Linked DNA regions of Homo sapiens. The protein of the gene in region 1 purifies or fractionates together with the protein of each later gene. This does not show direct contact. Each region holds a gene or a part of one and is shown on either strand. Other genes may lie near its edges.

Region 1 (11,236 bases):
CATAGTCTCCAGATGTACTCTCTTGTGTTTGGCATGGGCATCAGATTCAGTGAGCCCTTTGTAATAAATAATACAACTTCTGTATTTTTTTTTTTTTAAGTAGAGAGGGAGTTTCACTATGTTAGCCAGGATGGTCTCGATCTCCTGACCTCGTGATCCGCCTGCCTCGGCCTCCCAGAGTGCTGAGATTACAGGCGTGAGCCACCGCACCCGGCCTAAATAACACAACTTCTAACATCTGCATGGTGCTTTCCACTAACAAAGCACCTTTCATCATGACTCTCACTCCTCACAAGTCTGAGAGGTAAAAGCTCTATTTTACCGATGAAAAAAATCTTCTGGAACAGGTATTCTGACTCTGTAAGTCATGTACCTCTTTCATTCTTTCATGTGGGTCCTTTCTGTTGCCAAAGTTCAATTGATTGCAATATTTTCCTATTTGCTCCCACTTCCTCAGTAGATAAAAACTGTTAATGGATAGTATTTGAGTGCTTTCTCTTGCCAGGCACTACCTATGCACTTTATATGAATTATTTAATCTTTTTAACAACCACATGAGGTAAGCTCAACAGCCCCACCGTATAAATGTAGAAACCAAGATTCAGAGAGGATAGGTTATTTGCCCAAAGTCACACAGCTAGTAATTGGTAGAGGTGGGATTTCAATCTACATCTTCCTGACTCCAGAGTATACTCTCCTAACCATTGTATGTACTATTGTGAAAGGTAACTGAGTGTCCTCTTTCTTTTTCTTTTTTCTTGCTATATTGCCCAGGCTGGAGTGCAGTGGTGCAATCATGGCTAACTGCAGCCTCTGCCTCCCAGGCTCAAGCGATTCTCCCACCTCACCCTCCCAAATAACTGGTACTACAGTCAGGCACCTCTGTGCCCGGCTAATTTTTGTATTTTTTGTAGAGATGAGGTTTTACCATGTTGCCTAGGCTGGTCTCAAACTCCTGAGCTCCAGAGATCTGCCCACCTGGACTTCCCAAAGTGCTGGGATTACAGGCATGAGCCACCTCACCACCTTGCCCGGCTGTCCTATTTCTTTGATTTGCTCTTCCCAAGAATTCAAGCAAAGTTTGCCTTGGAAATCCAATACCTTTGTTATATGTGGTGATGAGCTGTAGAACAGAGGTAGGAGATGGAGGAGGGAGTAGCAATAATCCCTGATTATGAGTTCTGCACCTGCTTCTGATTTATTGGGACATCAGGTAAAGTCCCTTTCTCTTTGTTGGGGTATTCCCACCCATAAAAATGAGATTAAAAATTTGCCATGAAGAAAACACAGAAGAAAAAGAAGGCTAAAATATTGAGCTGAAATTGAAGGGAAAATATTTGAGTTCCACAGAATGGTGACATACTTTGCATAAATACAAATTTAAAATATCATTAATGCTATGGTGATAATCACTACTTTGCGATGAATTAAGTACAGCCCTCGGAATCAGTTTACCAGGGTCATCTTGCCAAATGAAGACAGTTGGAAAATGCTTCCGTGTGCCTCAGGTTTCCCGCCCCTGTCATCCACCACTCCCTTGATGTCCCTTTCAGGGGGACAACAGTCTGAATCTGCCCTGAGACACTTACAGGTCTCCTACACTTGGCCTTCTCACACAGTGGGGTGACTGTGGAGCAGATCAGCATTTGAATGAGAACCTATTTGTAAAGCTCTTTGGCTGTAAGGGAGACGCAAGTTTAGTAAACTTGAGGCAAGGGGCCAGAGAAGATGACAGTGATGTCACTTCGATCCTCATGACTGATGCTTTTCTTTTTCCCAGTGGCGCTATCTCGGCTCACCACAACATCTGCCTCCTGGGTTCAAGCGATTCTCCTGCCTCAGCCTCCTGAGTATCTGGGATTACAGGCATGCACCACCACACCTGGCTAATTTTTGCATTTTTAGTAGAGACAGGGTTTCACTATGTTGGCCAGGCTGGCCTCAAACTCCTGACCTCAGGTGATCCACCCTCCTCGGCCTCCCACAGTGCTGGGATTACAGGCATGAGCCACCACGCCCGGCCAATGACTGATGGTTTTCTGATGTGACTTTGAGAGCTGTTAATGTGAGCAAGAGTTGATGGCCGTCGATCCCATCTGCCTGTACTTCCTATATTCTTGATGCTTTGTCTTATAGGAACCGGGCAAATCTAACTCAGTCTTCCTTTGATCCACACTGGATGAGTGAACTGCATGTGGGTGTCAGAACTCAGTGCTTTTGTACTGAGGCTGTCACCTTGTTACCTGAGGGCTGCCTTAAATCCTCAACCTAATCTCAGCTGTTGCCTCTGGCATTCCCTGGTTATTAGTTTCTTGTGGGGTGTGTGTGGGAAGTGGAGAGGAGACCTGAGGGAGGAATAGAGACAGGATATGGAAATACCTCAGTGCCACAGTACTGTATTGGTAGTGCTTGGCTAAATTCCAGAAGTCCAGCAAAAGAGGGACAATCCTTTTTATTTTATTTATTTATTTTTTAGAGACAGGGTCTGGCTCTATTCCCAGGCTGGAATGTAGTGATGTGATCATAGCTCACTGTAGCCTCGAACACCTGGGCTCAAGTGATCATCTCACCTCAGCCTCCTAAGCAGCTGGGCCTACAGGTGTGCCAGCGGACTCTGCTATTTTCTTTCTTTTTCTTTTTTTTTTCTGGTAGAGACAGGGTCTTGCTTTGTTGCTCAGGCTGTGGGACCATCTTTTGAATCTGGCAAAACCCACAGCCTATAGATTCAGAATTGCTTATTGATAAGTCATTTGATTTCTTCTGGACACGGGTGGCCTCCAAAGACTTTCAGACTCTACCTGAGCAGATGCTTGTTTATTGACATGGAAATTACTTTTCCAGATGAACTTTTAAAATCAATGGTTTTCAAGTATCAATGCACACTAGAATCACCCAGTGGACACTGTAAACCATCTGGCCCCATTCTTAAGGACTCTAATTCAGTAGGTCTGGGTTGGAGGCCAGAAATCTGCATTTTTAACAGGCATCTTAAGTGATTCAGACGGTCAGCCTCAGAATTTGGCTCAGGTTTTGAACTAGCCTTTTTTTCTGCTGCAGTCTGTTTTAATCACCTTCATTGAAGGATTTATTAGCATCTCCATGTTTATTACCTGTTTCATTCTCATAGCATCACAGCAACTCAAGCAGGAACAAGAGGTGGTTAGCTCCATTTTATGGGGTGTTAGGGGGTGGAAGGTGGGATTGAGGCACTGGGAGAGGTAGGTCATGATGAGTCAGAGACAGAGATGGGAACTGAAGTCCAAAATTGATGACTCTCAAACCAGGCAATTTTCTGGGGCCTATTTTCTCAGCTTGTGATTTTATATTTAATCATAGTTATTCCTTGAATCGCCAGTTCATTGTACTTGGGTAAGCAAAGCATATTTGTATTTTAAACAAAGTAGTTTAGCATCAAGGTGCCAGTTTTTGTTAGCATATTAAGGCTCTCTTAAGCTTGAGTTAATATCGAAAACAGTACTGTGGAACTGACTTAATCTGCTTCTCTCTGTGCATGCTTCCTTTATTATTTCTGAAGACTTTAATTTTTTTTTTTTTTGAGACAGGGTCTCACTCTGTCACCTAGGCTGGAGTGCAGTGGCAGTCACAGCTCACTGCAGCCTCAACCTCCCAGGCTCAAGTGATCCTCCCACCTCAGCCTCCTGAGTAGCTGAAACTAGGCGTGCACTACAGGCCCAGCTAATTTTTGTGTTTTATTTGTAGGAATGGGGATCTCACTATGTTGCTAGGACTGGTCTTGAACTCCTGGACTTAAGCAATCCTCCTATCTCGGCCTCCCAAAGTGCTGGGATTACAGGTGTGAGCCACTGCACCTGTCCAAGACTCTTTTTTTTTTTTTTTTTTTGAGACAGGGTCTTGCTTTCTCACCCAGGGTGGAGCGCAGTGGTGTGACCTCAGCTCACTGCAGCCTCAACCTCATGTGCTCAAGTGATCCTCCCACCTCAGCCTCCTGAGTAGCTGGGACTATAGGTGCACACCACCACGTCCTGCTAAGTTTTTTTTTTTTTTTTTTTAGAGATGGGGTTTTGCTATGCTGCCCATGGCTGGTCTTGAACCCGTGAGCTCAAGTGATCCATCATGTGCACCACTGCCCCAGGTGACTTTTTACATAAAGTATAAGAAAACAGATTCCTCCTCTCAATGCCTACAGGAATCCCCTCTGATCTTCTAACTGGTAAAGTACTAAGTTAAAAAAACCTCTTAGCCCTCTGTCTCTCCAAGTTGGGTAGTATTAAATATATGAATCCATTTTTAGCCTGGGCAGCATGGTGAGACTCTGTCTCCATACACACACACACACACACACACACACGCACACACACACACGAAGCTGGATGTGGTGGCACATGCCTATAGTCCTAGCTACTCAGGAGGCTGAGGCTGGAGGATTGCTTGAGTCCAGGAGTTTAAGGTTACAGTGAGCTATGATTGTGCCACTGCACTCCAGCCTGGGAAACGCAGCAAGACCCTGTTTGTTAAACACACACACACACACACACAACACAATAATTTTTTAAAATCCTGAAAACTCTCAGTTAAGTCATTATTATTATTATTTTAGAGATGGGGGTCTTGCTGTGTTGTCTAGGATGGTCATGAACCCCTAGGCTCAAGTGATCCTCCCACCTCAGCCTCCCAAGTAACTGGGAAGACAGGCACGCGTTACCATGTTTAGCTAAATTGTTTTTATTATGCTGTGGTTATTTAAATTTACGAATATAAAGTAGGAAAAATGTGCTTTTATTTCTAGTTCTTACACAGCTAAAAAAAAACCACAACAAATTTACAAATTAAATACAAATGAAACCACAAAATGAATACTATTCAATTAAAAATATTATAGTAATTTAACGTGACAAATGATGTATTTTGCTAAAACTGTCATCCGTCGTATTGTTACTATGGTGTTGCCTGCTATAGCTCAGCTTCTTTTGTGTTCAACATGCCTATGCCACCAAGTGACTCCTGATATCTTAATTTTCTCACCATTTTTCTGTTACAACTACCAAATAGTGCAATCTCATGATGCATTTGGCTTTCATTTTGTGCATGAAAGTATCATTGTCATTTTAAAACCACCTCTGTTCTTTTCTCATTATCCCAGAACAATAAAAGCAGCACTAAAACACACATGTAAATGTGGGTGCTGAAATTGTGTGGCAATACTTGGTTGTAAGGTGGTCACCCAAATAATTCAGAATATGCTTATACAAATCTAAAAAATATGAAAATGAAAATAAAATTAAAACCCTAGAGAATACATTCGCAGACATAATTTGAGAAAAACTGTTCAGGTCTGCTGGTTCCCAAACTTTCATTACTATCAAAGGCTCTAGCTATTGTGCTTACTTCCAAGAACCCCATTTATTTATTTATTTATTTATTTATTTATTTATTTATTTATTCATTATTTCATTCATTCATTCAAAGGCTCTATTGTGCTTACTTCCAAGAACGCTATTTATTTATTTATTTATTTTAGAGACGGGGTCTCACTCTGCCGCCCAGATTGGAGTACAGTGGTGCGATCCTGGCTCACTGCAACCTCTGCCTCCCGGGCTCAAGCGATTCTCATGTCAGCCTCCCGAGTAGCTGGGACTACAGGCTCCCGTCACCAGCCCAGCTAATTTTTGTATTTTTTAGTGGAGACAGGGTTTCACCAAGTTGGCCAGGCTGGTCTCGAACTCCTGGCCTCAAGTGATCCGCCCGCCTCGGCCTCAGAATCCCATGTTTTAAAAAAGTTTGTCTCCTACACTGCATTTATAGTTTTATTAATCAGGCACATAGAATTACCATTTCGGAGCTTGTGATCACCATATGTAGTTATCACTCCAAGCTGCTTAAATTCCAGTCTAAAACAAACAAAACATTCTAATTATTCTGTGCTACCCTGACAGGGGTAAGTGAAAACTTTCCATTCAGGTTTGTAAGAACGAGCTCCCAGACCTCCACCTCTTCCCCTTGCTGCCTCTGAGGACTCTTGGAGGTCTAGGGAGGCCAGTTTGGGTTTTCTTGCTCAAGAAAGTAGCCACCCCACCCAATTTGGAAGGATTAAAGCTTGTCCTAGTTTTGCTTCATTGTTGTACTTCTAGCATGCTAAAGAGCTAAAAAATGGGAGGAAGAAAATACAACAGAAGGCACCATTCCAGTACCAAACTGAAAAGAAACACAAAAACAAGAGAGCAGCATGTTTTTAACAGCTTGCGTGGAAAAAATATTGACTGGGGAGTTTGGACAGCACTGTTCATTTTCTCTCACCGCCCGCGTTATTTGTCTTACGGAGCAGGAGCCAGATACCATTCTGGAGAAAGAGCCGCGGGAAGAGGTGGAGGGGTTCTGTGGAAGTTTGAGTCTGAGCGGAGAAATTAGGGCTGGAGATCCAGTGGCTCAGGGCCAGGAAGAAGTCAGGGGAGGTGCTAAAGCCTTTTTCCTCCTGGCCTCGGGCACTCTCTTTGGTCCGCCTGAGTCTTAAGAGGGCACAGCGCAGATCATTCAGGTAGGTTCCTGGCTCCTTCAGACTACAACGAGCTGGATGAATCCCTGTCCCTGTTTCTTTCGGCTGGGGAAAGGACGCAGGGGTTCCATTCGCTTTCTTAGCCCACCCGTCTTCTTGAGTTCAGACCTACAACTCCTGCAGTGGGGGTCAGAAGGGAGCCTTAATCATCGGGACAGAAACGCGGCTCCCCAACTTCGGCTAAACCAGCGTGGCGGCCTTCGTCCCTACTGCCTGGGCGCGGGGCGGGGCCTGGGCGCGGGGCGGGAGGCGGTGACCAGCAGCAGGAGGAGAAAGAACATGGCGGGCGCATCAGAGCTCGGGACCGGCCCAGGAGCAGCGGGTGGAGATGGAGATGATTCGCTATACCCGATCGCGGTTTTAATCGACGAGCTCCGCAATGAAGACGTGCAGGTACTGGACTGAGGCCGGGGACCCGAGGCGAGACCGGCTGGTCGCGTGGTAGAGAAGGGGGAAGGCCTGCGTCGCGGTGGGGGTGGCCGAGGTACTGAATGAGTCGGACTCGTAGCAGAAACTTGAAGGGGAGGCGGGGAATGCTCCGCGAGGGGCTGTGGTGACACGCCCCGACCCTCCCGGGTACCTCTCTAGTAACCTTGCTTCGGACCCCCTGAGGCGTCCGCCCGGAGCCTTGCCCTTCCCGGGCGGTTGTCGGGGAACCCGCTTCCCGCCTGGGCGCCCCATCCGGGCCGTGAGGTGGCCGCGTCTCTTGGGCGAGGGAGCAGGAGAAGCGCGGTGCCAGGCCGAGACGGGGCTGGAGCGGCTGAGGGGCGCAGGATGCCCAGAAGCCCTTTGAAGTGCCCCTGGATCCCTTCATCTCGGCTTGGAACTGGCTCGGCTTGTTGGGTAGAAAGCGGGGGTGGGATGGCCGATTAATCTGGACGAGTAGTGTATCCGCTCTGTGGGAACTTTTCTTTGAAACCACAGGTGTTGTATTCAACCGTTTCACCTGCTTCACCACTGCCAAAGTGCTCTCTTTTTAAAATTATCTTACTTCCTAGGTGTTGTATTGTCTTTCCTTCATTTCTCTTCCGGTCCCTTCTGAGTGTTTCTCCTGGGAAATCCTCCGCCGGCTAGTGAGGCCGAGTTACACTTCTTTTTGGAAGTCCTTATGAGCTTCCTTAACAGTAAAATCTAAATGAAAGGTTATCTTCATTCTTACCCCTGTGTCATAATTTCACCTGTTAGCACCTTTTGTCTTTTGATCTAAATTCAGCCGTTTCTTTACATTGTTCTTCTTTCTACTTTCTTTTCTGAAGCTCCGACTCAACAGTATTAAGAAGTTATCAACAATTGCCCTAGCACTTGGAGTAGAAAGGACCCGAAGTGAATTGTTGCCATTTCTTACAGGTATGTGAATCTTTGTTTAAAGAAAGGTAGGGACATTCCATTTTCCAGTAGCTTTCAACACTGACTTTTTTAGAGTTTATTACCCACATTAAAATGAGCCAGGTGTTTTTTGTGCAAAAGAAACAGAACAGAGTATATTGTTAGTTGTGGCTAGATATATTCAAACATCAACCATTTAGCTATTGAAAGTAATTGATACGGGAGTATGAATTTCTAATTCGTTGTGCAAAGCAGATACAGGAAGACGGTTGAGAAGAAAGAAAATGCTGTTAGGATTTTGACTGGGTCACCTTCCTGGTCGCATAGTGAATCTGTTCCTAGTTTTGTGTCAGTGTCCAGCTGTGGGAGAGCTATCCATGTTGATGAGTCCTGTTGTTGTCACTTCCAGATACAATTTATGATGAAGATGAGGTACTATTAGCTCTTGCTGAGCAGCTGGGAAATTTCACTGGCCTAGTGGGAGGTCCTGACTTTGCCCACTGTCTGCTGGTGAGTATTTATAAGCTGCCTACCCTCCTTCTACAACTTTTGCAGTATAAATGATACATTGTTTGGTGATAGACACACTGCAGCATTTTTTATGCAGATCTTTTTATGGGCAGATAGTCATAATGTTAGTCATTGAGAGAATAAGTACTGTAGGCACTTTGCACTCAACTCCTTTTTTTTTTTTCTGTAAATAAGAGAACTTCGTCCTCCTTTTCTGCGTCTGTAGACTTATTAGTTTAGATGTAGGGAGAAAAAGGGTTTGATTGTTTTTATGGTTCCCCCGCGCGATGGTGGAAGTTTTAATTCTCACCTAGCAGCATTTTGTCTTTGTCAGTTTAACTTTTGCTTCTGACTTTGTGAGTTTGATGAATTTAGTTCAATTTAATTGACATTTATTGAGAGTCTACTTTATCAGACACATCATAGTTTACAATGTTAATGTTGAAGAAGACCAATGTGAGGGGGCTTGGTGGCACAAGCCTGTAGTACCAGCTACTCAGGAGGCTGAGACTGGAGGATCACTTGAGCCCAGGAGTTTGAATCCAGCCTGGGCAACATAGTGAGACCCCCATCTCTTAAAAAAAAAAAAAGACCACCAAAATGAATCTAATGAGGTCACTGCCTTTATGTGTCAGCAAATAATTACCGTGCAGTCGTAAATGGAAAGATATAAGTACCCACAAAATACCCACGTAATAGAAGGGAGAAAGGGATTCACTCCGGGTGATCAGGGAAGACCTTGGGAGATGATGTCTGAACTAGGTTTTAAAGGATGACCAGGAATTCAACAGTTGGACAAGGTAGGGGTGTATGTGTCAGAGCTTTGAATACTGGGTATGTAATACTGATTCTTGTGATTTCTGTCTCTAGTTCTGACTTTTCCATGGAACTCCTGAGGTAGATTGATTAATAGATAAGTATGAATATATATATATAGAGAGAGAGAGAGAGAGAGAGTTTTTTTTCTGTCTATGTATATAGGCCTATGCTTTTTTCTACTTGTATGTCAAACAGGTATTTCAAACTTAACATACCCAAAACAAAACTTAGCTTTATCCCCCAAATACACCTCTCATTTAGTTGTTCCACTTCAGTAAATGGTATCACTATCTTCCCACTTGCACAAGCCAAAACCTAGAATGTATTCTTGAATCCTCTGTGCCTTGTTCCACACATCTAATCCATTAGTAATTCCTATAGAGTCTACGTATATTTCAAATAAGTCCACTTTCTTCCATCCCTCCTATTACCAGCCTAGTCCAGACTGTCATCTTTCCTCTAGATTGCTGTAGTAGCTTCCTAGCAATGCTTTCCACTCTTGCCTCTCACCCGACTCTTACAGTTCACATCACCCAGCAGATGGCTCACTCTCTGCTATAGCTCTTAGAAAATCCAAATTCTGTACCTTAGCTTACAAGGCTTTTTATGACCCGCCTCTGTAGGATTATCATATGCCCAGTGGTACTGCATGAGAAGAGGTGACAGTAGGCAGGGAACAGACTGCAAAAGGCCTTGATAACCTCTTCCATTCACATTGGTCATCTTTCTGTTTTTTGAACTAACCAAGCTCATTATTCCCTTAGGACCTTTGCCCTAGGTCTTCCCTCTAATGAAAAGCTCTTTCAAGCTTTCTGTGGCTGGCTCCTTGTCATTCAGGGATCAACTTCAATGCATCTCCTCAGGGAGGTTTTCCCCAACCACTCAACTTAAAATAGCCTCACAGTCATCCCTTACTACATCATCCTACTCCTTTTTTCTATAGAGTACTCATCACCATCTACTTATTTTCTTGATTGATTGTTGTCTTACTCCATTAGAATGTAAATGCCACTAGAGTGAGGAACCTTGTCTGCCTTGTTTCTTCTGTGTCCTCAATGCTAGAATATACCAATAATAATGTATTGAAAAAATGAGTTTCAGAGGCTTGGAAGCATGAAACAGGCTGGGTTCAAAACTGCCGGAGTGTGGCTGGGTGTGGTGGCTCACACCTGTAATCCTTGCCTTGGGAGGCCAAAGCAGCAGGAGGATTGCTTGAGGCCAGGAGTTCAAGATCAGCCTGGGCAACATAGTGAGACCCCAACACTTAAAAAAAAATAGCTGGGCATGATGTCATGTGTCTGAGTCCTAGCTATTCGGGACGCTGAGGCAGAAGGACGAGGAGTCTGAGGCCGCACTGAGCCATGATTGTGCCACTGCACTTCAGCCTGGGCAACAGAGCAAGACCCTGTCTCTTAAAAAAAAAAAAAAAAAAGAACTGCTGGAGTGTGAAGTGTTGAGGCTGGGTAGGCAGAGTGGTCATCAAGGGCCAGGCAGAGTTCAAATCAAGAGACCACTCATAAGCAATTCTCAGGAGCATGGCCTCATCCTGTAGTAATGATAGCTATTATCCAGTGGTACTGCACGAGAGGGGGTTACAGTAGGCAGGGGACAGATCATGAAATGCATTGGCAAGTGAGAAACAGTATCTTTTCAATGAGTTTCTGAAATACCTTCTAGGAAAGCTGAATACTGTCTACCTGTGTGTATCAAACAATTTTTAAAATATATTATTAGACACACTTCTTTTCTTTAACTCATTATGCTTCTGTTTCACTCTTGGTTAGTTCTATATGTGGGTTTTATGCTTTAAAATCTGTAGCTCATGGCATGTGTAGAATCTACCTGGACTACATGCAAACTCAGTAAGGCAGAGGTTCAGAGAGCCAGCCTGTTTACACTTTTTACTAGGCCATGCCATATTCAGTTACTGCTCTTAATCCAGACCATCCACCCCATTTGGCTTCTTTTATTTCTAAAGCTGTAAGCAAGGTGTCCTACCATCTCTGTACTTTACCTTTTTTTTTTGAGACAAGAGCCTCACTCTGTCAC
Region 2 (10,467 bases), on another chromosome or scaffold:
TTTGAAAATTTGCATCAGAGAGATGACAAGCATGTGGTCCTGGTTAAATTAAATCTAAAGCTTGGATTAGCAAAGATCCAGAAAATTCTGACCCCCTAAGCACCACTTTAGGAATACCGCCAGAATCAATGAGTGGGATCTAGGGATCTGTTTGGCCTAACATTTGTTTTTTTTAGAATTAAAAAAACAAAACAAAAACTGAAAGGATCTGTTAAATACTTTGTCAACCTGGCATCCCTGACACTGACATGAAGATCCAGTTGGATGATGGATATTGCCAATTAAAAAGTTTGTAGTGGCAAAAGTAAAAATGATTCAAATTGACGAATGACCTGTCCTTTGTTTTTAAACACAGATACGTTTTTCTGGGCCTTTCTCTAAAATGAACTTTAGGGCTTGATACATTTCACAAAAATATACATATTTTTCGTCAGCTACTACTTTGTATACAACCTGAATCCCAGTGTCCAACACTTAAAAGTACTGCAATTATATAAATTACTAAACAAGTTAACAGTAATGGAGAGGCAACTTCTGAGTAAATAAAATGAATGATTATGTACTTAATAGCCTTGTAGTCACTTTCAAAGAATAAAGTAATCTAAATAAAATTATACTTAGCACTCTTTTTCATGTAAGTTCAATAATTATTTGGCTATTGGTTGAAAACATCACACAGACAGACACCAACCAAAGATTCATTATCTCCACTCGCTAAAAACATTGATGGTTAATTTTAAGCAATTCTTTCAAAGAAAAACAAAATTAATTCTAAGCCTTTCAGTCTGATTTGTGACATCTTAATACAATATAACTTAAATGACAAAGCCTGAGAAAAGCACCAACATAGATTTTTTTTTAATTGCATCCAACCATCATTTCAGATGTCATAAAGATTTGCTTCAGTTAAAATGGCAGCAATGACAAAGAGGTAGATATGAGAGATGCTTTTTAAATATTTTAAGACTATTCTTAGGTGGAATTTTAACTAGTTCAGGTATTTAACCTAAAAATATTTACTAGTTGAATCTTTACCACATAAGAACTTCATGACATGCTGTTTTGTAAGAGGGAAATATATGAAGTATTAAAAAGTGAGCCTTTAAAAAATTACATTTACTTAGCCAACATTAATGAGATCCCATAATTTTGGTGAACAAATAATTTCTCCTTCTACCTGAACTTTACTATAATTAAAGAATAGCTATTGTTTTCTCTACTGAAATTTCTAGGAATTCACATTCAAAATTCTTGGAAAGTATATATGGTGCTCAGAAGAGCACAAAGCGCATGAAATGTCCCCTGAAGTCCTAGAAGTTGAGCAGATACATTAAAAAGACATTGATGGTCACAAATCAGGACCTTCACAGATTGGTAAACACACACACACACACACACACGCATGCATGCACACACACACACACACACACACACACACACACACACTAACTCTCTCTCTCTCTCTGTGCCCCCCCTCCCACCCCCTCCCCAAACTCAATCTTCATCCTCACTGTAAGGCTGCATTTTTTTTTTTAAAGGCACCTCTCATTTTCTAGCTATTGCCTTCTTGATGATATTTGTTTTTGTTAAAAAGTCTGAATGTTCAATGGAAATAGTTCAGTACTGAGAATAAAATATTTTTCAATTCACATTTGAATAGCCAGGTTTTCTTACATTCAGATTTTAATACACTAGAATGACAGTCTTTAAAACAAGCATGCTAGCCTATAATGAATATTGTATATACAGTAATTTAAACACTTAGAACTATATATTATACTGCAAAAGCAAACAGCACAACACTCATCATACTCATCATTATCTGCTGTGTATACTACCTCCAAAAATGAAAATACAAAACAGTAAAATGCACCTATGGTTTATATATATATATATATATATATATATATATATATATATATAGTTTATATATTATATATATTCTTACAATATATATAATATATATTTATAAAATATACATACATTTTAGACATTTTCAAATAAATCTTCATCATTATCTCCAAAAGAAATTTATAGCAAGAATACTGAAGGAATGAAAGTCAGATTAAAAAAAAAATTTCTCACAAAGTTCATCATCAGTGATGCAGCTCAATTTCCCCCGTTTTAGTCATAACTAAAATGATTATAAAAGCGAAATATTTTGCATAACTAAGTATTTGTTTAATGGCAAAAGTTGTTAAACTTGTTCAATAGAAAAATACTGAAGGTCATTATATCACTTTTGTTAAATAATCTGTCTATGGTTTGAGTAGCAAATGAGCTCCATATGACAGTTGAGTTTTGAGAAGGGTGCTGCAAGCTCCCAGAGATGTATCCACAGCATATGAAAATAAGGCAGGGATCCAAACCTCCCGCTAATTTTCATACTATTCCAATACATTTCAAACAAAATATTTACAAATGAAGCACTATGAAAGCATTTCAATGGCTGTTTAAACATTGAATTTGTTCATTCTGTGAATTTTCATTGAATGTTCAACAGGCTAGGGGAAAAGTCAGACACATGTATATGCTACTCTGGTTGGAAGACAGCTTTGGCTCATTTCTAGGCTGAGATCATGCAGTGCTGGTAGAGAAGACTCTCTCCGTAGTCTCCAATGCCACAGCACTGGCTTTCTAAGGAACTTTCAACAGTTCCATTTGCGCTACAGTCTATGTATCTCATGGTTATTTTCCACTCACTGACAGAAAAATTTCAACCATGAAGCATAAAATGAACGGGGGAAGAATGTCCTGGTTTTTAGAATTTCAGTGACATTAATAAAGCAGTAACTGAAGATCTTAGAAGGTAATTAATAACTGGTAGAACAATAGCTTTGTGGTCATCCATCATAAATACACCAAGTAATGGCATCTTCCTTCCTTCCTTCCTGGAAGGAATTTTCCAGTATCCTTCTACAAATGTTAGGTTAGAAACATTCTTTCTTCACTGTGAAGAACCAAAAGAAATTTACTGAACACAATATGGAATTCTGTATCTGCATGGAAATATTAAGTATTCACCTGACAGCTCATGTTTAGGTCAATTCATTTAATTACACAAAGCAGTCTCTTGAGCCTGCTTGTTAACCAAAGCACAAAGATGAAATGAAAAGGTAGCTGTATTACTACAGCATATCTGTATGAAAATCAGGCAAATTTAGCACAAGTCTCTAGCTTTAAAGAAAATTTGCCTGTATAATGCAGAATTCTAGAGGCAAACAGGCAGAAATTTTACAGAAATATTTGTCAATCATTAGCCACACCACCACCAGAATACTTTTTCAAGGAGTAGATGTACGTATCATGAGAAGCATCATTGTTATGACGATGGAAAATGTGGGGAATGGAATATGTAGAAATTGTTTTAATTGGTTAAAATATCTATAGATTTAATATTTTTAAAATCTAAGAGCCTATTTATATGTTTTTTGGTGGAAAGTTGGACGTTAATAATTTATTTCCAATTTCTAGATTGGTCTCTGTCATTTGGGACAAAGAGTAAGAGAGACATAAACCACTATAGAAATAATGTCTTTATGACAGGAGACTAGGTCTAGATAGCAGGGTCTTCAGAATCCCAAAAGGTGAACACATGTAGGTGGGTCACAGGTAAGTTGGGCTGGGGAAGCCTGGCCTTTTAAGGTGTGGATTTCCCCAGAAACAATACTGATCCACTGCCCATTAAAACATGTATATCTCAATTAAACAATGGGGGAGGAATAGGGAGAGAGAAAGACAGAACTTTTTAGCCAATATTTGGCATTAAACTCTTTCATCCAGGTTTCCAGGAGATTCTTACAGGGATTAATAGAGGACTTCTAGGGTACAAAATATTTGTTTTTATTAGTGCTTCTGCAAAAGCAGCTGCGTGAAGTTAACCATACTCTTTGGGCTATTAATAATTATGAACTGTTCTTGGTAGATGTCAGATAACTTGAACGTGACAAAGAAGAAAGAGCACAGATCATCTGAAGCATGATTAGGTGGGTGTTGATAAATGATTATTAGCAAATAAATTCTATCTTTTCAGTCACTGAAAAGTAAGATTTCATTGGTATGAAATAATCACTCTGGTACTATAAATGTCACATGAATAAAGTGAATTTTAAAATAGAAATTATTAAAGAGATATGCCCTGTTTACCCTTAAAAATAAACAGAATTTCAAACCTGAATAAGTTAAATCTGTTAGTAAAAGCAGAGTCGATCAACTATTCTTCACAATGGTGAGTGCTTGATAGCTAAACTTTAGAATGATACCAAATCTGTTTTCAAAACTGTAATACAATATAGAAATCTGCTTGCAAACTATTTGTCTAGCATTTCTGAATAATAATATATTTAACATATTATTGCATTTTTCTCCCCCTAACAGGTAAAATGCTTTGCCAGGTGCTTTATGTGAACAGCTGAAAGGAGAGTCAAATTAAAAACTCAGTTTAACACTGCCTGGTCATTATACACAAAGGGGTTAATATGGCAGATATGATAAAGATTACTATTTTGACTACTTAATGTGTTTTAACAAGATTTCTCAGGGGAGAACTTGGTCTAAGTTTCCCGTTTTCTTCTATTCAGTCCCAGCTATCAAGCTTTTAAATTATCCATTGTAGCATGCCCTACTTACTCAACAGGGACAAGCTAAACTTGTATTCGCTCAGGCCTGCCTAGCGAATTAGAACCACCTCAGAAATAAAGGCGCCTATTGGGGAGAAATTTGAAACAGACCTCAGGCTCACAGATTCAGCTGAGCTTGCAGCAACCTGAACAAACCTTAGTTTTAGAAAACAGTATATGAATTGCAAAACTATACTTCAACAAATGTTCTCTGTGCTCCTTCAGCAGAACAAAAGGGCAGGACGAGATGATTCTTGCCCTCGTCTTCTGTATCTCTTGTGTGCAGTTGATTACTTATAAACAGCTAGAAGGTGAAGATGATGCATTGCGTCATACAAAGACTTTAGCCAGTGCGTCAGCTCCAGCACTGGCTATATAGCATTTGGATGGGTGGAAAGCTACATCATGAATCGATTCTTCAAACTTTTTTCGATGAGCTGTGAATTCTTGGATACACGTCTTACTTTCTAGATTCCATAAACGTATTGAACAGTCATGACCTATATCCAAAAAAAAAATTAAAAGGAAAAATTACATTAACATGAAAATGGTAAGGACAAATAAATAATCCATAGTTGAGGTACTTACTGCCAGACATCAAGTAAAGGCCATTGGGATCAACTGCTAAACTTGTAACAGCTTCTAGGTGGGCTACCATCGAGTGGATCAGTTTGCCTTTGGAAAAAGAGATTGTTACTCCTTATTAATGCCTTTCCTCATCTTCAATATTTGCCAGCTACCATGTCCTGCTGGTTTCTCCAGTCATCCCTCTCTGTGTGCTTACTGTATTAATAGCTTTTTCCATCACCTAAAACAACATGTCTCCCTCTTGCCTCTAGTCATGGCAATGATATGGAAAACCAAAAAAAGCTCAAATTTTAGATTACACTTTTGTCTTTTAAGCCACGATATGGAAGTCAGTAATTTCTACACGCAACCCTTAAGCCACGTTTGTTAATTAGAACTTAGACATTATTAATCACCTACTTTGCATTCTTTAGCTACTGGCAAATTATGAGTTGTGGAAACACAGAATTCAAATTCACAGAGAGAAAACAATGAGGCAAGGAAAAAGGGACAGAAAGAAAACATGGCCACAATTTTGGTGGATACAACATACAGAAAAAAATTTTAAATATTAAATGATTCATCACCAGCAGCTAAACAAAGTCAGCAGAAGTCAACATATTAACAAGGCAGATACTTAGGTAAATATGGCAGCTAATATAGGGTGCTTTCCTCCCAGCACAGTGCTTCCTAAATTTCCTTTATACTGGTGAAATGTAATAAAATAAAACTTGGGCAAATCTCCATGCACAATTCAAATCAATGAGGACCAACCAGTCAGTTTTATAATACAGAAAAGATTAGTCTATGGAAAAACGAATACAATGACCTGGAGGTTTTCCATCCGCAACACTAAAAAAGGCTATTTGGTAATGGAATAATTGAATATTGAATAATGCTATTCAATAACTGAACAACTTTAAACAAAATATAATGACCATATGCCTCTATTTCCAATGTTTCTACTTTTCCCCAATATATAATACTACAATAGATCATAGCAACAGATCATTTTTATTTGTATTTGAGTGAACTTTTCCTGGTGTCCCTAGTGATAACCTTGGCTCTAAAGCCTACATATAGCATCTGCTCACTATTAAATAAACCAAAATGATTCTGTATTGTATAATAAAGACTAGTCTTAGCAGATTTGGATAGAGTGAAGAGAAACTGAGACGGGAGAGTATTTGGGGTTCAGTGCCTATTCCCTGACTACGAAACCACCAAGAGACACCAAAATTAGCCTACTTGTGGTAGGGATTTTTTTTTTTTGCTTTAATAAAAATCAATTCTTAATAAATTCTTACCTGTATTGTTATCATAGAATTTGATGTGCCTGTCTTCATGAGCAGTGATGCTGATCGGAAGAGTAGGATGACTGATGACTCTATTTATTTGGCAGGAAGAGTTGGCTGCTAAAAAGAAAAAATTAAAAAGCAACACAACTTAGTCAAAGATATTTTTCACACAAAGGAGAACTGAATTATCTATCTAAGAGACTGAAAAAGTAGGCCGGCCGCGGTGGCTCACGCCTGTAATCCAAGCACGTTGGGAGGCCAAGGTGGGTGGATCACGAGGTCAGGAGATCGAGACCATCCTGGCCAACATGGTGAAACCCTGTCTCTATTAAAAATACAAAAATTAGCCGAGTGTGGTGGTGCGTGCCTGTAGTTCCAGCTACTCAGGAGGCTGAGGCAGGAAAATCACTTGAACCCGGGAGATGGAAGTTGCAGTGAGCCGAGATCGTGCCACTGCATTCCAGCCTAGGTGTCAGAGCGAGACTCCATTTCAAAAAAAGAAAAGAAAAAAGAAAAAGAAAAAGTAATAATGTGACTTTCATTATTTGTCTTTAGTTCATTTATTCTGTGACTGTTTTCAAAATTTCAATGTTAGGAAAGAGAATTGCCTGATAAATCTGGAAATATTTATAAATTACAATTTCCTGCTATATGTGGGTGCCATCTATGGCTTAGTCTAGAGCCACTAACGCTGTTCATTCTACAATGTTCTGTGAGATTTTGCTACTTTAAGTAAGTTCTATCATCACTTACATGGAGATAATTCTCAAATTTAAATCTCAGCTCTTTTTGCATACAAAGTTCTGTATCACATCATTATCATCTAAAGATATATATGACAAAGAGGGCTTCTTAATCCTTAAATCCCTTTATCACTCTTCCTCATCATAATAGAAATGGTCATTTGACAGAACTAGGTTTGGAATCCTAAAAGTCAGCATCCTAACTGTATTTTTTGTGTTAGTAAGTTCCAAAGAAACTTCAATTATACACACAATGAGACAGGCAAGCACATATCATTAAGCCTATATTACAGTGAACACATCAAGGTTCAGAAAAAGTTGTGACTCCTCCACAATCAGGTGACAAAATCAGTACCTATTCTAACTTCTGACTCTCTCCCAACCTGATGGTTCATGCAGATCACACAACTGTCAAAATTGGTTCCTAAATGATCACACATTCTTCCTGAAAGGCTTTTATTAAAAAGAAATCAGTAATTTAAAACCTCAGTGATTTCTGTTAAGCTTTTTTTAAGAGAAAAGAAAAACTGACATAAAGAAAACACTAATTGAAGGTATGTCAAAGTTTTAAAAATTAAATTATGGTCCAGGGAGAGGAAGGGGTGTCCTTGTAAAATATATTACTGGAACAACTCTCAAAATTTGAATATAAATAGTAATTCAGATAATAGTATTGTGTCAATGTTAAGTTTCCGGATTTTGATCATTGTAATACACTACATCAGAGAATGCCCTTGATCTTAGAATTACACGCTAAAGGATCTAGGGGAATAGGAGCATGACGTCTCTCATATGGTTCAGAATTAAAAATTATACACATATATAGAGTGAAAAAGCAAATGTGACAAAATGTTAAAAACTGCTAAATATGTGTGAAGGGTAGCCAGAAGTTCTCGTACTATTTTTGTACCTTTTCTGCAAGTTTAAAATTATTTCAAAATAGAGTTTAAAAAATTTTTTGAACCCTAGAATAGGTATTACAAGTTTATATTCACATAATAGAAAATACAGCTAAAAATAGTCTAATCTTACAGGATTTTCATGTGGCTCCTAGAAATATAACATCTTAAAAACTGAAGACAGTCTTTTCCCAATGCTAGTGGCAGGTAATTACCCAGCCTGTTATTTAAATATAAAATGTGGCTGGGCACGGTAGCTCACACCTGTAATCGCAGCACTTTAGGAGGCCGAGGCAGGCGGATCACTTGAGGTCAGGAGTTCGAGACCAGCCTGGCCAACATGGTGAAACTCTGTCTCTACGCAAAATACAAAAATGAACCAGATATGGTGGCACACGCCTGTGGTCCCAGCTACTTGGGAGGCTGAGGCAGGAGAATCGCTTGAGCCCAGGAGGTGGAGGTTGCAGTAAGCTGAGATCGCACCACTGCACTCCAGCCTGGGCAACAGAGCGAGACTCTGTCTCAAAAAAAAATAAATATAAAACAAAAACTCACTTGACCATGTGGAGTAAGTTCTTAGTCAGTTACACCTGGTTTAGATCCTAAACAAAGAGATGTTTATTTATAAAATTCAGACTACGCATTATTTCCTCCACAGATAATACTCCATTGAGCAACACCCGTGGTAAAGTCCAGCAAGAGAATAACAGTAACAACAAAAAAAGAAATACTTTAAGTGAAATATCCCATATATTCTGAGAGAGACGTTTCAGAGAATAGCCTCAATTGCTTTGAGAGCTAGAAAATAAATATGATTGAAATCAAATCATGGAAACAGGCAAAAGAAAGTTCTTATTTGGTAACACTTTTAAGGAAGCTTCTCCACTTGATGATAAATCAGAGAAGTCGGCAGAATGCAAAGAACACTACTCATACCTAGCTTGTGACGTATCTGCTTCAACTACCTTTGACTTTACCACAGTCAAATCGCCATTGACATCAATGAGAAGAAGGGTAATTTATTCCTATTCTAACAAACATCCTTCATCACTTTAAACTCTATATAAAACTCACTTTCTCCTTGAAGCTTGTTTGGTCCTTTCATTTTTTTAAAAAAATATGCTAAATTCCAAAACAGAACAACACAATCAATTATAAATAACAAGGGGTAGTTCACAGTAAAACATAATAAGAGACTAATTTAAGTTTTCTTTATACAACTTTAAAAGTAAAAAACATAATTTAGAAAATGTCAGGACATATTACAACTCAAAATAATGATCATTTATTCCAGTAATGTTGCCTTTGTTAAAAACATTCTTGGAAGTTTTCTCAAAATGTTTCCAGTGTCAAGTAAAAAGTCCTATTAATTTAGAGTCACATCTCTTGGGGGAAAATGTGGATTCACTCGCCTAGTTCTCTTTATCCATCTTATCTACCAGACTTGACATCTTATTAACCTGCAGTCATTAAAAAGCACTATTTCCACTCAGGATGTTCACAAATTGGCCATATAATCTCTGAAGGTAATTACAAAAATGTTCTCATCCTTTCTAATTTCATATTAGTTTTTTATTTTGCTACTGTAGCTTTGAGTCATATATTTAAACATGATTTTAAATTTATTGAGAGTCTAAAACCTGTAATTTCTTGCTGAAAAAAATTCTCCTTTTCCAATTCTATCACCTGAGTTTAATTTATTTTCCTGTCTCTCTCGTTTACATCCAAGTAGCTCAAAGTTCTATTCATGCTTACTTCCCCAAACAAGTCTCAGCATATCAGAAGAAAACAATGAACAACAGGTTAGGAAGGGAAAATGATGAAAACCACAAAGGAATAAAGAAACTTTTTGAGAGAGAGAGAGACAGAGAGTGAGAACACCACAAGAACATATGTAAACATATGCATGTACATGTTCACACATGCATGTGCACACACACAACATATCATCACTTTTAAAGCTAGTTCTCAGATTAAAACAAGAGTATATGTATGTCGTATTCTTCATCAACTGCAACCTAAACTGTGATTGTCTAGATTATGGCTAACGACAGAAAGCAATGGTTAAGAAAGCCAAAAACCAAAAAAGAGTCTGTAATATCTTCTTCATAACCTGAAAAAGCACTTATTTCCTGACTTCCTGCATCCAATAAGAAGCTTCAGGTTTGGAATTCTGAGTGCCACAACATGATCTGTATTGAGCTGTACCAAATCATACTATTAATATAAAATTAAGTTGATTTAAAATATGAAATTACGAGAAATGAAAAATAGAATTTCCTATTCAGAATAAATATGGCTTTCTTCAAATAGAATTGAAAATTAATCATTTAGTATAAAA
Region 3 (10,467 bases), on another chromosome or scaffold:
TAGTAAATATAACGTCATAATGTTTGACCTTGGACTTACCTATTTTATTTTTTTAAACTTATGTAGATTATAAAGCATTGTCTTTTCAAAGTTTTTTTCTGACATTCTTAAAACTTATTTTCTTTCAAAATATATGGTTCAAAATAAATAATTCTGCTATTTCTAAAGTTCAGAGTTAAAGAATATTCCACAATGGTACAGAAGCTTTTGAGTTTTATATATTTTGGCCTGAATTATCCAGGCAACAGCCAAAATTCTTCCCTTATATTTATGGCTTATGACAGTGCTGACTTTTCATATCATTATGAGAAACTCAGAGATCTATCTCATGGATAAATCAGGTTTTTCAAATTTGGGAAAAATGAAAAAATTTTTGAAAGAAATTGGGGTTGATTTGTTAATGACAAATTTGTACTAACATGGCAGGAAAATATCCATGGAAACACCAGGTAAAGTTAATTGTTTGTTGCACCCTCATAAAAATTACTCGTACTTATTCCTTTGTTAAGTTTTTAAAACAGTGAATTATGTTGAAAAGCCCTTGTTTTATTCTTTACACTGGTAAATGTTAACCTTAAACACCAAAATTTTCCTTTGTTTTAATGATACCTTCTGTGTCTGTGAGCTTACAGAACTTTAAAGAACTCTCTAAAGTATTCTGTGGAGATATATATATATATATATATCTCTTTAGAGAGAGACATATATGTAATATAGATATGTATCTTTATATATATCTCTCTCTCCACAGAAATAGTAAATATTTAAACTCAATGTGTTTTGGGGGATGGTATGGAAAATGGAAGACATCTTTAATTTTCTGATATTTTAATAACTGGGACTTCTTAATAGTCTGTTTTGTTAATAAATTGGTTTTAAAGGCTGCCGGAAAGTCAAGCGGTAGCCATTAAATGAACCTCTACTGCTGACATTAATTTACAGGGGCCAACAGGACAAAACTCTACGACATGATAGCTGATCTGGGAGATGATGAGCTGCCCCACATCCCTTCAGGAATCATTAATCAGTCTAGGTCAGCCTCTACTAGAATGACTGATCATGAAGGTGCAAGAGCAGAGGAAGGTACAAAATTTAGCTACCATGTTTATTTACATTTCAGAAGACCTTAAATCCAAATCACATCTTAATGCAACTAGGCTACTGTTATAAAATGCTGATGATCATTTTATATGATCTTTAGAGAAGGTGTTGGGCAAGCTCTTGATGTAACTAATTTAGGGATTTTGACATTTCTGGTTTCTATTTCTTTATATTTTGTTTTTGTTTTTAATGTGAGGAGTTGTTGTTTCCATCATAGGTGAATTCAGAGTCTTTTCTTAAATCTAATTTTAGCTACAGATCCAGTAATGGGAAAATAGTAATTTATAAAAACAAACTTAAAATAATACATATGGAAAAAACTACTCATTTTGTCTTATTGCTTAAATTTAGGAACTAATAGTAATTACCACTTACTAGAAGACAACTATGGTGCCAGGCATTGTGCTTGGAACCTTTTTTTTTTTCTTTTTTTTTCCTTGAGACAGAGTCTCACTCTGTCTCCCAGGCTGGAGTGCAGTGGCATGATCTCGGCTCACTGCAACCTCCGCCTCCTGGGGTCAAGCGAGTCTCCTGCCTCAGCCTCCCAAGTAGCTGGGACTATAGGCGCACACCACCATTCCCCGGCCAATTTTTTGTATTTTTAGTAGAGACAGAATATTACCATGTTGGCCAGGCTGGTCTCGAACTCCTGACCTCAAGTGATCTGCCTACCTTGGCTCCCAAGGCGCTGGGATTACAGGTGTGAGCCACAGTGCCCAATCTGTTACATTAAATATATATTACTTCAAAAAATATATGTAACTGTTACCTAAATTAATCATTTGAGAATAAGGCAGCATCATTATTCTTTAACTTGGTAGCAAGTATACGCTACCTAGTAATGAATTTTATAAAATTTGCCTAAACCAGAAATGTGTAGGAAATGAAAGTACTACTTAAACATTTTTTCCAAAATTGATTTTAGCCGAAGATATATGGGTATACTTGAATCATGTATAACTCTAAGTCTAGATATTTATAAGTATTAAATCTGAATTTTTAACCAAAGATTATTGTGACATATGAGATACAGTAATTTGGCATATGTATTAAGTTTAATTGATGTTATTGCCTTTGCTCTGTAAAGGGGATTTGTTTGATGTCCCAGTCAAAAAATTTTAAATACATCTTGTTCCCTTTTAAGATTTCCCTAGTGGCACAGTTTCCTTACAGTTAAATAATTTTGCATTTTTTCCCTCTCATAATTTACCATTTACTTCACTCACCTTAAAAAAAATCACTAAAGTAACAAAATCATTCAAAACAAAATGAATGAAAAATAAAATAGTGTCTGTTAATTTTTTCAGATCTCATTTCCACTATTGAGATATATTCCTGTTTTACTTTAGAAGTATTTTCTAAAATACACATAGCAACTCCTTTTTTTTTTTTTAATTTTATGCATTTAGTGGTGATTTTGCTTCGTTTTTGGTCTGTTTTGCCAAATATGCATAGTACAACTTGCTAAAATTTTTGTAATTAATGTACATTTAAAGTGCAGGTTTTGCAATTTAAGGCAAAGCCACGTTAGCAATGTGGACCCTTTTAAATGTTTCAAACCAATGACTTAACGGAAAAAGCCAGTCAAGGCACACTCTACACAAAAACCAACTTAGAACTCTCTATGTGTGTTTGTTTATGTGTTATGTGTGTGTTTTAAAGAAAGAATATAGGTCAGTGATCTGTTTCTTGATGCTGGTAGGAGGGCGAGGGGAGAGATTTGATAAGTGTGAACTTCATTACAGTTTTTGAAGTATCGATCTTCCTGGAATTTGTTATTTAAAGAGGTGTGAGTTTGACTTCAAGCTAAGAAGGCAGCTTTGGAGTATACAGTCTCCTTATTTTCAGTGGCAGTCCCCAACTTCCTTCTTTACTTTTGAAGTCCATGTCCTACCTCATTTTATAAAGAACAAATGTCTGTTTTCTAGGAGTGGAACTTCAACATTACAATCTTCTAGACTATTGCTGCTAAAGACTTGAGACCTACCATGTTGCCACTGGTATAAATGGAATCTGTTACCTGGACTAAGTTCTTGGGAAAAAGAGTTCAATATGCGAGCTACAGGTTTCCTTCATCATAAGTGTCCATCAAAAGGAAGATTAGTTACAAAAGTCTGAAAAAGACCTTGTATTTTATAGACCCGTTATACTAGTATTGTTATCTTACTTGATGAAATCTCTTAGGCCTCCTAAATTTCCATCATTAAATTAAAAACTAGGGCAGGCATAGTAGCTCATGCCTGTAATTCCAGCACTTTGGGAGCCCAAGGCAGGAGGATCACTTGAGCCCAGGAATTCAAGACCAGCCTGGGCAACATAGCAAACTCTGTCTCTATTAGAAAAAAAAAGAAGATATTAAAACTACTTTTTTTAGGCCGGGCGCGGTGGCTCACACCTGTAATCCCAGCACTTTGGGAGGCCGAGACTGGTGGATCACGAGGTCAGGAGATCGAGACCATCCTGGCTAACACGGTGAAACCCTGTCTCTACTAAAAATACAAAAAAATTAGCTGGGCGTGGTGGCGGGCGCCTGTAGTCCCAGCTATTCAGGAGGTTGAGGCAGGAGAATGGCGTGAACCTGGGAGGCAGAGCTTGCAGTGAGCCGAGATCGCGCCACTGCACTCCAGCCAGGGCGACAGAGCAAGACTTCAAAAAAAAAAAAAACCAAAAAAACTACTTGTTTAAATAATTACATTTTTCTTTGAATTACTAATGACATTTTTATATTATGGGTAATTATATTACCATTAATAAAATGAATAGGATAGAAATTAATTCCCTCTGCAGGGAAATAAGGGCAAACAGATGAGTAGCTGCTGTGATTACCATATGCCACAGTGATGGGTAATATGGAAAGCAGAGGTAGTAGTGTAAAAGAATTTTTGCACATATATGTGTAAATAGTGATTAAGCAGAATAGCTTGCAATAGGTACATAAATATGTCATAAAATATATGTGTGTATATAGAGAAAAAGGACAGAAATGTGGTCATATGATTAATTAGAAATGAGTATAATACTAATTTTTTGTTAAGTACAATTAAGCCAAAACTCGAGTAAAACTAATGTCCAGACACTTCCCTTCACATGCTCCTAAATTGGTCTGGCTGATCAGAGATAGTCTTGCAAAATCATTTGTTACGTTAAAGTTATTTTATTGGGCTTTTGAGATTTGTGTCAGTGAATGTTTGTATAATTGTGAGTGGGAGGAACTGTGGCATTTTGTTCTGACTTCTCTTAGAAACAAATTCCCTGAGCTTAAAGTAAAAATATTTCTTTGTCTAGAGAAAAATGCTTTGAGTAAATATTATATAATGACTTTTATATAATTATCCTTAAACATAAGTTTAAATTATTGATTTTATAGTTTTTAGCTGCTTCTGGTATTGCCAATAACTGCATACTAATAATTGGTAGGAAAAGATCAAAAGATCAATGCTACAGATTATTCAGATTCAATAAGTGTCATCATTGAAAGATTAAATACTACTTAATATCTCTATATATTTTCTGTCAGGTGCTTTCAGATTCATTTTAGATCAAGTAACTGAATCAGAGCTGCATTTTAGAGCCCTATTTGAGTCAGATTATATAGCTTATTTTGATAGGATAAAATAATAAAATAACAAGATATTCTAAGTACAGTTGAATTTTATTTTGCCATAGTATATATATGAATTGTGTCTTCTCAGAATTATTTCCAGTAGTTTAGTGATGACTGTCAAGTTTCATTACACCTGTTGTGTTTCCTGTAGCATATTTATATCATTTTTCATGGGAATTTTTTTAAAATTGATAATCAGCTTGATTTTTTGTATAATGTGTCCCTTTTAAATTTGCTCATGAATTTTAAGTGTGTTTTGATATATTGAGTTTTATATTATGATTTGAGTATTTCTCCCTTGTTATCTTAATGTTAAAATTTTGCTTTCAAAGCATATTTGAAATGATATTGAAGGTTGTTGCTTAAACTATGACTGTTACAACAAAATATTTAGATAATAGTCATTCAATTATGGCAGAGTTTAATTGGTCAGTAGTATGTATAGAAAGGAAAACGCATTTTAAATAATTGGAACTGTTAATATTAACATGAAAAGCTGTAATAATGCACATGATATAGTTGAGAAAACTAAGTGAAGCTCAACCTGAGTTTAGTTTGAAATTGAAATGGCAAATCTGATCAGAAATTAAAGCTCTGTGGTCAAGATTACTTGCTTCATTTTAGAGTGTCATGGTAACTAGAATGGGACATTAAAATAAAAGTCATAGTCAAAGCTTTAAAGCTGGAAGACAGGCTGGGCGCGGTGGCTCACGCCTGTAATCCCAGCACTTTGGGAGGCCGAGGCAGGTGGATCACTTGAGGTCAGGAGTCAAGACCAGCCTGGCCAACATGGTGAAAGCCCATCTCTACTAAAAACAGAAAAATTAGCCGGGCGTGGTGGCGGGCGCCTGTAATCCCAGCTACTTGGGAGACCGAGACAGGAGAATTGCTTGAACCTAGGAGGTGGAGGTTGCAGTGAACCGAGATCGCACCACTGCACTCCAGCCTGGGCGACAGAGCAAGACTGTGTCTCTAAATAAATAAATAAATAAAGCTGGAAGACATTCTGAAGACCACGTGGATTAACCTTTTATAGAAAGGAAACTGACATTGTTGGTGGAAGAATTTTTTCCTAGACCATTGCTGTTACTAAAGGAATCTGAACAATTAAAGCTTCATTCTAGTGAACTGATATAGTATATAGCTGACTGTAAACCATTTACATTTCAATGTTTGTACTAGTTTTTATCAGGGACTAGGATGCCTAGTACTTCTTTAGAAAGCAAAAGGACTTGGTGACAACCTATTAACATTTAAAAAATACTATATGACTACTTTGAGGTCCTTGAGGTCCATGGTAGAGGTTTCCCCTCATGAATGCAAAAATCTGATATTTAACTCCATTATTTAATCAAAATTTGTCCTATTTCTTATTTAACATGTAAACTATAGTTATAATTGTACTGAAGTGATAAGAGATTTAGACAGACAAAGCTTTTGTGCCCTAGCTTCCACCCCAGAATAATATATCTAGTGCACATTTTATTTGTGGACAGTTAATACACCACAGTTCCAACACATTTGTTTAACACTGCTTAGTAACAGGATTTTTTGAGTAGAAGTGGGAAAATAAAAATTAATTATATTACTGAATATTGTAACTGTTAAGTGCTTAAATTTTCCCCACAATATTGTCTTGTACTGTATGATTTTTCAGCATTTAAGAAGCGGTTTTGTTCTTTATAGCTGAACCAATAACGTTTCCATCTGGAGGAGGCAAGTCATTTATTATGGGTTCTGATGATGTTTTGTTAAGTGTACTGGGCCTTGGAGACCTTGCAGACTTGACGGTAACAAATGATGCAGACTATAGTTATGATGTAAGTGCAGTTTTATTTTTAATTTTTTAATGATTTAATAGAAGGCTCCTTATTTTTTGGAATCACTTATAAAACAGAATTAATATCAAGGTGCATGGAAAAGATAAGTTTGTGTCAATGTGTTGATTTGAAGTGACATGTTTTTCTTTTATAACTACTCTCTTTGTGGTATTTAAATTTTTTTTTTAGGTATTTTGGTGGATTAACTAGAAGTTTGAGATGATTAATATATTGGTCAGTAAATACATCTTGAGTAGTCAACTCTCAATTATCTCAAATTAAGCCATATTTTGGTGTTAACAAGAAAAAAAATAACCTGAATCATATATTTGCCTTCAGAGTACTTCTTAAAAAGCATGTTTTATTTTTGAACTTTTATTTTCTTAAGGAAATATTTTAAAGTTTCTGAACATTTTAAAGTTAGCTTGCATCATTTCCTGAATACTTAACTCCTTCATTAGAGGATTGGGGAGTGGATGGAAGGGTTGGGGAGTGGGGAGTCCAGTGTTAGAGGTGAAACTTGTCTTGGATTTAATTTTTTCTAGTCATTAATATTTCAATTGAGAGTTAACTATACTTGTTAGATCTTTATGTTAATTGCAGTTTTTCAGCAATTTTTTTTTCTTTTTATAATGAGTTTCTTTTTTCCACGTTTTATACTTAACATTAGCATGCTTAGAGACAGCCTTTGGTGGGCTGGATTATTCTCATTAATATATTTTTTTAAGTATATAAGTGACTAAATTCCAGTAAACTTTTGACTGCTTTAGAAGTGGTTTCACAGCCTATCTTTACAGATGGAGAAATGTGAAGGTAAAAAGATAAACCTCTGTCAATATCAAGAATTATGAAAATGGGATAAAAATATTCTTAAAGGGTCTTTAGTTCAGACTTTCAGAAAGTACCTTAACTTGCTGCCTTTAATAATTTCACATGCTAATACGTTTTCTAAATGACAACTTTACTGTTAATACTGTACCGTTGGATATTTGTAATAACTTATGTAATTATTTTTCATGTAAAGTATTGCAGCAATGGTAGTTATTTTGTTCTCATCTGACATTTAATGGGAGCTTTGGGTTTAGCTTAATAGGTAAAAACAGATTAAGGAACTCTTCATTTGACCTAGGCTATTTGTAAGGCGAATGAAATTATTCTGAGTTATTATTAAATGATAAAGTTTTTTTAGAAAGTTTTAAAGGTACATTAAATTTCCACTGGACATTTTAGCCAACAGTTTTAAATATATGTGTTAAACACACCAAAAAGAAACGAACAAACACTCCACATGCCTTCCAGTTTACTACTTTTACCACTAAATATTGTGCTCTTTCCTTTTAGTTGCCTGCTAATAAAGATGCCTTTCGAAAGACATGGAATCCCAAGTATACACTACGTAGCCATTTTGATGGAGTACGGGCATTAGCTTTTCATCCTGTAGAACCTGTGCTGGTTACTGCTTCTGAGGACCATACCCTGAAACTTTGGAACCTGCAAAAAACAGTTCCTGCCAAAAAGCAAGTATTTTAGTGTTAGCCTGGTGTATTTCTTCCAATTTTGCTAATATAAGTAATTATTCCTCATTATTGTTGCATGTCTTTAATGCACACATTTGATCTAATGACTATTTAATATCAACCAGTGATTCATAGTTATTTAATTGCCTTCTCTTCCCCTACCCTTTTTCCCCCTCTTTTAGGAGTGCCTCTTTAGATGTAGAGCCTATCTACACATTTAGGGCCCACATGTAAGTTTTACTGAATTGGTATTTAATTAACATCATCATTATTGTTAAATATTATTTATCGGTCCTCAAACCTTGTAATTTTCTCAATGTTTTGTATTAGAAAAGATGTATTACTTGAATAATAGCTATTTAATAATTGTATTGGTGAGACTATGAATATAATAGTACCATTCAGGCCAGATGCAGTAGTTCATGCCTGTAATCTGAGGATTTTCGGAGGCTGAGGCGGGCAGATCACTTGAGGTCAGGAGTTCGAGACCAGCCTGGCCAACATGGTGAAACTCCGTCTCTACCACAAAATACAAAAATTAGCTGGGCATGTTGGCGTGCGCTTGTAGTCTCAGCAACTCAGTAGGCTGAGGCAGGAGAATCGCTCGAACCTGGGAGGTGGAGGTTTTACTGAGCAGAGATCACCACTGCATTCCAGTCTGGGCTGGTGACAGAGTGAGACCCTGTCTCCAAAAAAAAAAAAAAAAAAAAAGTACCAGTCAGGTGTACATGTTCTCTTAAAACAGTTTTTAGATATTACATAAATTCAGAGGTTGGGGGAATGGAGATTTGAGTTTCTTCTTAGAATTTATCAGTAATTTGTTTTTCCTCTCTTCCTACAATAGCGGCCCTGTTCTGTCATTAGCTATTAGTTCTAATGGAGAACAGTGTTTTAGTGGTGGTATTGATGCAACCATCCAGTGGTGGAATATGCCGAGTCCCAGTGTAGATCCATATGATACATATGGTAAGTAAAATGATCAAAATGTATTTTTTTTAAGTGAATGGAGCTGACAAAAGTAAATACCTCAAATATGATTACAAGGTTATTTAAACCTATATTAGTCACCTCATTTAGTTCTTCCATTTGCTAATAAATTGCTTTATTAAAGAGAAAAATTAGGAAATGTCATGCCATGGGTATTTAAGCCTATGAATTGATACTTTCTCTGTTGTTTAAAAAACTATATTAATTAAAATGTTAATTTAGGTAGTAGTTACAAAAAGAAGGAGGAAACAAAATGTAATCTAAGTAACAAAATTTTGAACTTAAGAAATAGTTTATATATTTTAAAAATATTAAGCAAAAGACAATGGAACCAACATCAGGGGTATAAATCATTAAAACTTTTTGGAGCCAAAAATTTTTTTTGTTATTCTTAGCTCATATCTACAAAAACATTCTTAATTTCAAAATGGAAGAAAAAAAAAAAGAAAGGAAACCTCCTTTGACTTGCAAATGTAGCTTTTAGAAATCTGTTCTACAGAAACACCTACCTGTACCTGTGTTCAAATATATTTGTAAGGGCACTGTTAATAATTATAAAACGTTAAAACAAAATGTTTATGAACTCTTTGTTCTTTTTATTTAACACACACATTGTGCCTACATTAGCTAGGCATTGTGGTAAGCACTATGTCAAGAAATAAGATTTAGACTAATGGAAAGTAGAGACATAAAACAGATAAGCGAAGGGATGGGATCTATGGTTACAAATTGTGATAAATGATAAGAAGATAGAGTACTGTTGAGAGGGCGTAACAGGCAGAACCTTCTCTAGAAGAGTTAGTCAAGAAAGGTCTTTCTAAAATAGTGACATTCAAGCCAAAATCTGAAGGATAAGAGGAAACTTTCAGTAAAGAGTTTTAAGCCAGAAAGTTATCTGATAAATGTAAGGTTTTAAAAAGGTGACTGTGTCTGTTGTGAGAAGAATAAATTGGGGGCGAGAAGAGTGGAAAGAGAAATACCAGTTAGGAGGCTGCTGTCATAAAGTAGTCCAGTAAACTAGGTGACAAACGACATTGCCAAGATTAGAGTGGTGGTAGCACAGCATTTAGAAGTGGTTTTAAGATACGCTGAGGGAGTGTGGTAGAATAGACAGGATTTATTGATAAATTATGTTGAGTAGATAAAGTGATGGGTGAGTGACTCTTAATTTGTATGTGTTTAACTGCTTTACTGAGATAATTTACATATCACAAAATTCACCCTTTTAAAGTATACAGTTCAGGCTGGACACAATGGTCCATGCCTGTAATCCCACCACTTTGGGAGGCCGAAGTGGGTGGATCACTTGAGGCCAGGAGTTCAAGACCAGCCTGGGCAACACAGTGAGACCTCATGTCTGCCAAAAATTTAAAGATTTGCCAGATGGGGTGTCACATGCCTATAGTCCCAGACACTCGGGAGGCTGAGCTGGGAGGAT

The links.
Region 2: the proteins of PPP2R1B (region 1) and STRN purify together in Homo sapiens (affinity purification with mass spectrometry; 5 studies listed by BioGRID and IntAct, with this or other methods). This does not show direct contact.
Region 3: the proteins of PPP2R1B (region 1) and STRN3 purify together in Homo sapiens (co-immunoprecipitation; 5 studies listed by BioGRID and IntAct, with this or other methods). This does not show direct contact.

The regions. Positions count from the first base shown.
Region 1 is NC_000011.10:111,761,937-111,773,172, reverse strand, and holds the start of PPP2R1B (serine/threonine-protein phosphatase 2A 65 kDa regulatory subunit A beta isoform), read left to right. Parts: upstream 1-6,783; 5' UTR 6,784-6,811; coding exon 6,812-6,925; intron 6,926-7,788; coding exon 7,789-7,879; intron 7,880-8,267; coding exon 8,268-8,368; intron 8,369-11,236. UniProt on the Homo sapiens protein: The PR65 subunit of protein phosphatase 2A serves as a scaffolding molecule to coordinate the assembly of the catalytic subunit and a variable regulatory B subunit.
Region 2 is NC_000002.12:36,844,507-36,854,973, forward strand, and holds part of STRN (striatin), read right to left. Parts: intron 6,602-10,467; coding exon 6,494-6,601; intron 5,295-6,493; coding exon 5,208-5,294; intron 5,120-5,207; coding exon 4,950-5,119; 3' UTR 1-4,949. UniProt on the Homo sapiens protein: Calmodulin-binding scaffolding protein which is the center of the striatin-interacting phosphatase and kinase (STRIPAK) complexes.
Region 3 is NC_000014.9:30,909,582-30,920,048, reverse strand, and holds part of STRN3 (striatin-3), read left to right. Parts: intron 1-942; coding exon 943-1,083; intron 1,084-6,391; coding exon 6,392-6,525; intron 6,526-7,866; coding exon 7,867-8,042; intron 8,043-8,224; coding exon 8,225-8,272; intron 8,273-8,886; coding exon 8,887-9,008; intron 9,009-10,467. UniProt on the Homo sapiens protein: Calmodulin-binding scaffolding protein which is the center of the striatin-interacting phosphatase and kinase (STRIPAK) complexes.